2 linked regions of the Homo sapiens genome follow. The protein of the gene in region 1 purifies or fractionates together with the protein of each later gene. This does not show direct contact. Each region holds a gene or a part of one and is shown on either strand. Other genes may lie near its edges.

Evidence for each region.
Region 2: the proteins of SEPTIN10 (region 1) and CTSZ fractionate together in Homo sapiens (co-fractionation; one large-scale study listed by BioGRID). This does not show direct contact.

What each region holds. Positions count from the first base shown.
Region 1 is NC_000002.12:109,561,533-109,565,956, forward strand, and holds part of SEPTIN10 (septin-10), read right to left. Parts: intron 4,328-4,424; coding exon 4,231-4,327; intron 3,003-4,230; coding exon 2,834-3,002; intron 1-2,833. UniProt on the Homo sapiens protein: Filament-forming cytoskeletal GTPase. May play a role in cytokinesis.
Region 2 is NC_000020.11:59,003,994-59,008,439, forward strand, and holds the start of CTSZ (cathepsin Z preproprotein), read right to left. Parts: upstream 3,262-4,446; 5' UTR 3,136-3,261; coding exon 2,993-3,135; intron 2,493-2,992; coding exon 2,329-2,492; intron 1-2,328. UniProt on the Homo sapiens protein: Exhibits carboxy-monopeptidase as well as carboxy-dipeptidase activity. Capable of producing kinin potentiating peptides.

The DNA.
Region 1 (4,424 bases):
TATTCACTGCTGACTCCCAAATTACTATGGCAGCCCTAACTTCTCCCTAGCTCCAGATTCATCATGTGTCTAATAACCTACTCAAACTCTTCACCTGAATATTTAATAAGCAGCTTAAATGTAACATTTCTAAAACCTCTGGATTACCAACTACACCCCTAAACTCTCTGATTCCCATCCTCCTCAGGTCAATAACGATCACCACCAGTCACCCCATTTTCTAGGTCAAAGTGGTGACTGAGTTATCCTTGATCCCTCTCTTTCCTTCAAATCCCATATGCAAAAATAATTTATCAGTGGGTCCTATGGACTTTAATTTCAAATTACATATCCTTAGCCAGGTGTGATCCATCACTGTAATCCCATCACTTCAGGAGCCCAAGGCAGGCAGATCACTTTGTATTTTTAGTAGAGATGGGGTTTCAAGACCCCAGGAATTCAAGGCCAGGAATTCCTGACCCCAAGGCCAGGAATTCAAGACCAGCCTGGCCAACATGGTGAAACCCTGTCTCTACTACAAAAACACAAAAATTAGCTGGGGGTGGTGGTGCATGCCTATAGTCCCAGCTACTCAGGAGGCTGAGGCATGAGAATCGCTTGAACCCAGGAGGCAGAGGTTGCAGTGAGCAGAGATCATGCCACTGAACTCCAGCCTGGGCAACACAGTGAGACTCTATCTCAAAAATAATAATAATAATAATAAAATTAAATTTAAAAAAATACATGTCTTAAGCATGCTTCTCACCCCTCTGTCACTACCCCTCTCTTTCACGCCTCCATCTTCTCATGCCTGGACCACCATGGCAACCTCCTAACTTGGTCTCCCCACTTCCACCTGCCCCCCTCCCCCAACTCTCTTCTTCACATAGGGGTCCTCCTCCCACCCCTCAACAGAGACTCTACACAAGCAGGGTCTCTATTTGATCCAACAGTGCACATACACCCAATGACTAGCATTTGGCTGAGCAGATAGCAGACAAACTATTTGCTGAATGACTAAGAATTCTGACTGCAGATTTCTAGGCTTCATCCCTGGAAATTCTGACCCTGCATTTCTTAATCATCCACAGGTGACTGATGATGACTCCACCAGACACCTAGGCCTGTCTCCTCAGAGAGGACTTCAAAGTTGTCCCTGCCCGCTCTTACTCAGGACCCCTTCCACCTCAGTGCACAGAGGCCTCTGAAGTGACCCTGAGACTTGGAAGAAATGAGAAGTGAGTCTCCTCTGAGAAACACTAGGGAAGCTAACTCGAGATGATTAATCTTTAGTGAAGACAATATCATGAGAAAATTGTCAGTTTACGAGAATGACTGGCCCACAACCAGAAGCATCCTATGCCTGAATTTGGTGAGGGTGGGTTAAGTACACACAATGCTTTTTTTTTTTTTCTTTGAGATGGAGTCTCGCTCTGTTGCCCAGGTTGGAGTGCAGTGGCACGATCTCAGCTCACTGTAAACTCTGCCTCCCAGGTTCAAGTGATTCTCCTACCTCAGCCTCCTGAGTAGCTGGTTTTACAGAAGTGTGCCACCATACCCAGCTAATTTGTGTAATTTTAGTAAAGACGGGGTTTCACCATGTTGGCCAGGCTGGTCTTGAACTCCTAACCTCAAGTGGTCTGCCCGCCTTGGCCTCCCAAAGTGCTGGGATTACAGGCCATGAACCACCACACCCGGCCATAAGTATATACAATTCTTAATTCATTATGCTACCAGAAGTGAAAACATTAATTAACTCCATAGACTGAAGAAATTTAAAAATTTAACTTCATCTAAGATTAAGTCTTCCAAAAGCTTATATGCAACAGCGGCACTAATTTGATGCACTCCTCCCCCTTTCTTTTGTTTACTCTGGTGCAGGTGCTAAGAACCAGAGAAATAACAAATGCAAACAATGCAATGGAAAAGGAATCCTCAGTCTCATAAGAGAGTTTAAAATAGCACTTGTCCCAAGGATCTCACGCTTTCCTGCATGCAAACACTGTTCTGGAATGCTACATCAAATTGATCTGATTCAGTACACTAAGGATTTGAGTTGCATAAAGTCTGGGATACAGCACCATATAAAATTACCAAGGAAGTTTCTACAACTTTTAATGCTTTATATTACTGAGCAAGGAAGGGTTCAGATTCTAAAATTCTTATAACTACACTGTAATATGGCAAGAAACAATCTAATCTCCAACTCCCTACAAGCACTCTCCTTCTTCCTTTATAATATGTTTTGCTAAGCTTCACTCATTCCAAAACCTTTACAGAAGAAAAACCAACAGAAAATGTTTTAGTTTATTTTAAATGATTCCTGAGGACTGGTATGGAGGCTCACATTTGTAATCCCAAAGCTTTGCGAGGCTGAGGTAGGAGGATCACTTGAGGCCAGGAGTTTGAGACCAGCCTGGGCAACATAGTAAGACCCTGTCTCTACAAAAAATAAATAAATAAAACTAAGAAAATGATTTGTGTTCCAACTTACCTTTATGACAACAGTTAAATATATCATCGTCTCAGATAAATACAAAAAGAAATCAAATAATGAGGGTATTTTCCTTCAGTTACTCATGTCAGCATGAACTGAAACAGGGGGCCTCTGCCATACATTCTTCATCATATTTAACTCTTTTTGAGTCAGACAAGGACTTAAAAAGCAAGACTCTTCAAAAGCAAGAAGGAGTCAAGTGATTCAAGAAGCACAATAATTAGTCATTACCAAATGATTCTATATCATGGTTTTGGGAGATTCTAAAGAACACATGCCCCATCATCCTGGATATATAAAAATATGCAATCCTCTCTAACTTCCTCTTTGGTTGGCTTCCCAAGAACCCCACCCTACCTGACTGGCTTGTTTTCTGGGCCCACATCTGTAAAGCCCATTTCCTCCAGTTTGCAGCGCCTGTAAAGCTCATAGTGCCTGGTATGGGTCTGCTCTCGCAGGTCCTCCATATTTGTACAAATGAGCATTTCCCGCAGCTTTACAAAGTCACAGTGGTTTTCATTTTCCACTAGCCAAAAAAAAATAAGAAAAGAACAACACTGGATTTTAATTCCTGGCACACAACTAAGTGTTTGCTGAATGAACAAATAAATGAAAACATGTGAAACAACAAATAGCAAATGATCAGTTTGATTAACAGCTACGATTATTTTATACATGTAACCAAGGAAGAAACTCTTGCAGTATAAATACTGTATCATAGGCAATGTGAATTAACAGACCAGATTTACTTTAAATTTAGTAGCCAATGAATCACCAGGAAATACCAAAAAAGACACAACTTATTGTTAACCAAGTGTTCTAGTTATTTCACACTAATATTTTGTTAGCAGTTTACAAACTATCCTGAAGACATTTCACATAATGTTTAAAGAGTATGTAATATTAGTTCACTAAAACTTCAAAGTAGTAAATTCTGCAAACTCAAGAATACTATCCTTCCCTGCTATAATTATCAAATTCTTTTTATAGAACACATTTATGATCCTGTGTTAGACACTATTCAAAATTAGTGAACACACTTACATGATCCTTCTTCTATGTTTACGGTGACCAGAGGACTACAAATAAATATATTTTATTGTGACCAATACTCTTAAGTATAATTATTACTTTTACATTTTTTATAAAATTAAAAATGTTATATTTTCTCAATTTTTTCATTCATTACAAAATTTATCAATTAAGAAAAAAAATCAGCATTTGGAAATCCATACTAGTAAGGGTAATCTATTCACCATTAATTAGCACTATAAGTAAATGAACCATATAATACTATTTACTTACTCATTATAATGTCAGCTAAATAATCTAAATGTCAAGTAGATTTAACTTTTTAAGTTGGCTGACTGGCTTATTCTGGAAATAGCCGGCAATACTTTGATCAGTAAAAATATATAAATTTATAAGATGGTTGACTGTTCTTATACTTAAGTGGTAATTAGTGATGTTTTATGTCTGAACACTACTTTCCACATTCACATTTTGGTCAGAGTGCCCCACTGGTGTTTCCCACCTACTAACAGGGTACCGTGGGGGCGGGGGTAATGTGTGTGTGGCATAATGAGAAGTGGGAGGCTCTACACGGCCTCCAGACTTTGGCTAAAATAGTACACAGCCAATTCCTCTGACAACCAATCACATCCAAACTAAGCATCACCCCAAAGAAGGCATGACAGGTAGCTTTGAGATTACTAGATAGATACATATTTCTAGTCATCCTTTGTCTCATTTACCTTGTACAACACCCCAAGGGTACTGGCGAGCTTTGACCATCTTGTTTCCGACTTTTACCTCATCCATACTTCCCACAACAGCAAACGGCAACTGTCCCTGAAAAAGAATATCGAGCACATCTTCTCATACCACTGTGATAACTGACTAGATAAAATAAATTTTATGTGAGAGAGAAGAGAATAATTAAATAACA
Region 2 (4,446 bases), on another chromosome or scaffold:
AGGAGGCGGTGGGCGGTGCGTGATTTCTGCATCTGCTTCGAAGGTAGAACCGACAAGACTTGTGGGTGGATTATATGAGGGACAGAAAACAGAGGAGTCGGGTACCAGTCCAGGCTTTTGCCTGCATAGCCGGAAGGACAGCCAGGGAGGACTGGGGAAGAAATGGGCTGTCAGGTGACAGTAGTGGAAGGAGCCATCCAGACCTGAAGGTCTGAGGCTGGAGGTGTCAGGTGACCGGGACAGCGGGCGAGTGGGCAGGTGGATGTCAAGCTGAGTTCAGGTGAAGGGTTGGTCCTGGGGAAGCTGACACTCAGAACTCTGAGGAGCAGACAGCTGGGGAGAGGGGAAGGAGTGGCCAGGGAGGTGGAGGCGGGCAGTATGGTGCAGGAGAAGGAAGCATCCTGGGGAGACGTGATCAGGAGAATGCTTCACGGTGGGCCCCAGGTGGCAGTGGAAAGAACAGTGCCGGTGGAGTGGCAGAGGTGGGACTGAGGCTGGAGTGGGTTCAAGGGTAGAGAAGAGGAAGTGGAGGGACTCCAGATACTTCCCTAGGGAGCCCAGAATTGGGGCGGGGTGGGGCCGGGGGCTTTGTGTTCCTTTTTTCCAGGTGGGAGAGCTTCCCTGAGTGGGAAGGGACGGGCTCAGTGAGGGGACAAGACAGTTGATCCTGGGGGAGAGGAGGGAAGACAAATGGAGGACCTGCTGCCTTGGCTGGCAAATGGCCAGGGCCCCGTGGAAGTCCCCTTCTGGTGGCTTCTATTCCTCAGTGAAAGAGGAAGCGAGTGCCTGGGCCTGGGTGCGCTGAGAAGGAGGTTTCAGGAGAAAGTGGGGTGAAGCAGTCATCCGCCCAGAGAGAGTCCCCTGGGGAAATGCGGCAGGGCTGACCCCTGGCCAGGGTCCCACATCCATCTGAAAGCCATCTCCTTTCTACCCGCAGTCCTTCACAGACGCACATCTTGTCACCTGACTCCCTCTCAAAGAGTTCAAGGCTTCCCACAGGCACCTGTTGACCTTTCTATTCTCCCCTCACCCTCACCCCACCCTCAAAGGCTCTTTCACTTCCTCAGCGGGTGCCAGGCCTGGACACTTCCCCTAGACTCTGCCCAGTCCTCTGCCTCTAGCCCCACCCACACCCTGCAGCCCGCCCAAGGTCTCCCAGACCTTCCAGCTCCATCCACATCAAAGGGACCTTTGAACGATCAGAAGTGTGTTCCAGCCCCCGGGGGAGACGCCACGGATGCCACAGCTTCAGCTGGCTGGCTCTGGGGTCCAGACCCTACCCCCAGAGCAAGAACCCCTCATTCACAAGACTGAGCCCATCAGACATCCTGGCACAAAGCCCAGGCTTCCGGGCTCAAATCTCAGCTGTCACTCACACTATGCTCAAGCCTCCCCATCTCTCTGCAAAAAGCCTGCTTCCTCATCTGCAAACTGGAAGCAATCATGGCATTGAGGAGGCGTCAGTGAGATGGAGCACACGCAAACGCATGTCCCCCAGCCTTGGCCCACAGCGGCAGCCACACTGTAGTCTATCCTTTTCACATGGGTGTACAGCAGGCCTGACCCATGAGGACCAAGGCCAGGGAAGAGGCAACAGCACCACAGTGCTCATGGGCCAAACTCCCAGGCCACGCAAGTCCCATCTCCAGGGGAAATCCAGGCTCCTGGACCCTGTGCTGTGACTGGAGAGGGGATAGCAGAGTCCCTTCCAAATGCTGTGGGGTGGGCCTGGGGCTGGTTTGCAGCTGTCCCTTCTCCCGCCTTCTCTCCCAAAGCAGGGTGCAGCAGCCTCGTTGATAGGGAGGGCCTTAGTTTCCCCTTCCTCTTTGCTAAGAGCCTCCCTACCCTACTCCTGCCAAAAGCCTAAGATAGAAACCCACCAGGCTGGAGGTAGTGACCAGGTTAGGCCATGGGCTGTAGCCAACTAGCCTCACCCAATATTCCAAGCCCAGGACAGGCTTTCATCTGTGCTGAGAAGCAGTTTACTTCTGTATCCTCAAATACAGCCTGGGGACTCAGTGATTTTGCATTTCTGTTTCTATCCCAATGGCTGAGGTCACAAGCTTTGGGGGAGAGAGGGCACCTGGCAGCCACTTGTCACTGGGATTCAGTCCTAGTCCTGCCTGTCACCCAAAAGCCCCAGAATGACCCAGCTTGGGTCACCTCAGCAGAGGGCAAAGGCCCGCGCTCCTCGGCCTTAGCACCCCAGCCCAGGCTGACCTGGCCTTGAATCACAGGCCCCTGGAACCGCGGGCTGAGCTGCCTGGGCCTATAAACAGGCAGCCGGGATGGGCTTTCCTGGCCCACAGTCAAAGGGCGGCCACTCACCCGCCATAGCGCTGGTGCTGGCGTGGGCCCAGCAGGAGCCGCAGTATTGGGGGATGTGCTGGTTCCGGGTGATGCTGGCATAGTTGACACCATCCACATTGCGCCAGTCCCAGCTCTTGGGCAGATCCGCTGGGGACAGGTACTCATGAGGCCGGGGGTATGTGCTGAGAAGAGATCATCCCCACCCAGATCGGTGCTGGGGCTCCCGGGGGCCGTGGGCCCAGGAAGCCCTCGGTAGGGCCCTCCCGCCTTTCCCAACACCTGAGGGCATGGGAGTGGGGCCACAATCACCAGAGGTGAGCCAGGTGTGGGCCCACCTCACACTAGGAGGCTCCAGCGCTCTCAGAATGTGAAGGAGGCAGGGCACCCCCGAAAGGAGGGAACCGGGTTGCTCCCCCAGCCATGCCGCGCCGTAAGGGCCACCCCCAGAGGCCGAGGAGGTGGGGCTGGCCTGGCTTTCTGGCCAGGTGGGGCTTGTCCAACCCCACAAACATCAGGGCTCACCCTGGATGTGGAAGAGAAGGAGCGACCCCCAAAACGAAGCGGCTGGATCTGACCTTCCAAGGCCTGTTGGCGACGCAGGGCCCCCAGGAGGCAGAGCGCGCGCCTGGCCCGGGCGATGGGCCTCCCGTCCCCCCAGGGCTGCCTCCCCGCCGGTGCCCACCTGCGCCCCAGCGGAGCCAGCCCGTCCCCCCGCAGAGGCCGGTAGCAGGTCTGTCCCCGGCGGAAGTAGAGGCCGCCCTGCGCCGCGCCCGCCAGCAGCACGAGCAGCAGAAGCGGCCGCCACCCTGGCCCGCGCCTCGCCATGGCCCCGCGCCGGCTCCTGGGTCCCGCTCCGGATCCCGCTCCGAGTCCCAGATCCCGCGCCGGCTCCCGCTCTGGATCCCGCCCCGGCCTCGGCCTCGGCCCAGCACCCGGCCGACCCCGCACTTTGGGCCCCTGCCCCGCCCGGCCCTTAAGGCTGCGGCGGCCAGGCCGGGACACTCCCCCGGGGCGGGGCTGTCCCATCGCTGCTCCTGCCCCGCCCGGTGACCCCTGCCCTCCCCGCCCGGCTCCGCGCCCCGCTCCCTCCCTGGCTCCGGGGCACCTGAACTCGCGGGCCAGGCGCGAGGTCGCCGGGCAGACCCCAGCCTGACCCCGCCGCCGGCCGCCGCCCTGAGCGCGGGACTGTCCGGCTGGACTCATTTGCCGGGGTTCCTGGCTTCGGGGTGGGGGGCCGCAGGCTCATGGGCCCCCTTGGCCCTGCATTCCTGGGGCCCTGAGCCCTGGGGAGAGGCCCCCAGCCTCACATCTGGGCCCAGGCCTCCCCTAGGAAGGGATCCTGGGATGCGGCCACCGCCCCCAAAGAAGGGTCCCCGCGCCTGGCTTTCTAAACCCCTTTTCCCAAAGGCCCAGGCCCTTTCGGGGGGACGGTTCCCTTTTGCAGAGAAGGAAGGAGGGATCCTTCTAGAAAATGCCCCAAAGGAAGATTCCACTTGGCGCAGGCATCAGGAGTTATCCAATGTGACTTCCAAAGACGCCTTGAAAAGGTTTTCTGCTAACGAAACTCTTCTTAGTCAAATGAGGAACCAAAAGCAGAAGTGGCCCCCCAGGACGTGGTTTTGTAACTGGGGGAGGGCTTCTCGCTCCCTGCGGCCCCTCTGTTTGTCATGGCCCTTGGGCCCACACCATGGCCTTCTTCTCTGGTAAGAACAGGGCCCGGCATTCTGGGCTGCGACCTGACAGGCCCCTGCTGGGGGCCCTTGGCACAGGGCCCACAGATGAGCTTGCCTGACTCTCTCCATACTCAGTGGCACTCACCACATTCCAAGCGTGCCACGTGGGCAAGGGGAAGTCACAGTGGCTGCCTCCTGACTTCCAGAAGCTTCCATGACCATTCCCGGAAGCGCTGAGGTGGCCATGGAATCCCCGCATGACTGTCCGAGTGGAGAGCAAGGCTGGAGAGCTGCTTCGTCAGCCCAGAAGTTTCAGTCCTTGTTCCCCAAAAAGTGGTCACTGAGGCAAAGTGTGGCCCCGGGGCTCTACCTACTGATGTGTCTCTTATTTGTTTGGCAAGTCGCTCATGGAAACCATTAGTGTCCATCAGTCATCAGAAGGCGGGGTGGGGTGGCCATCCTG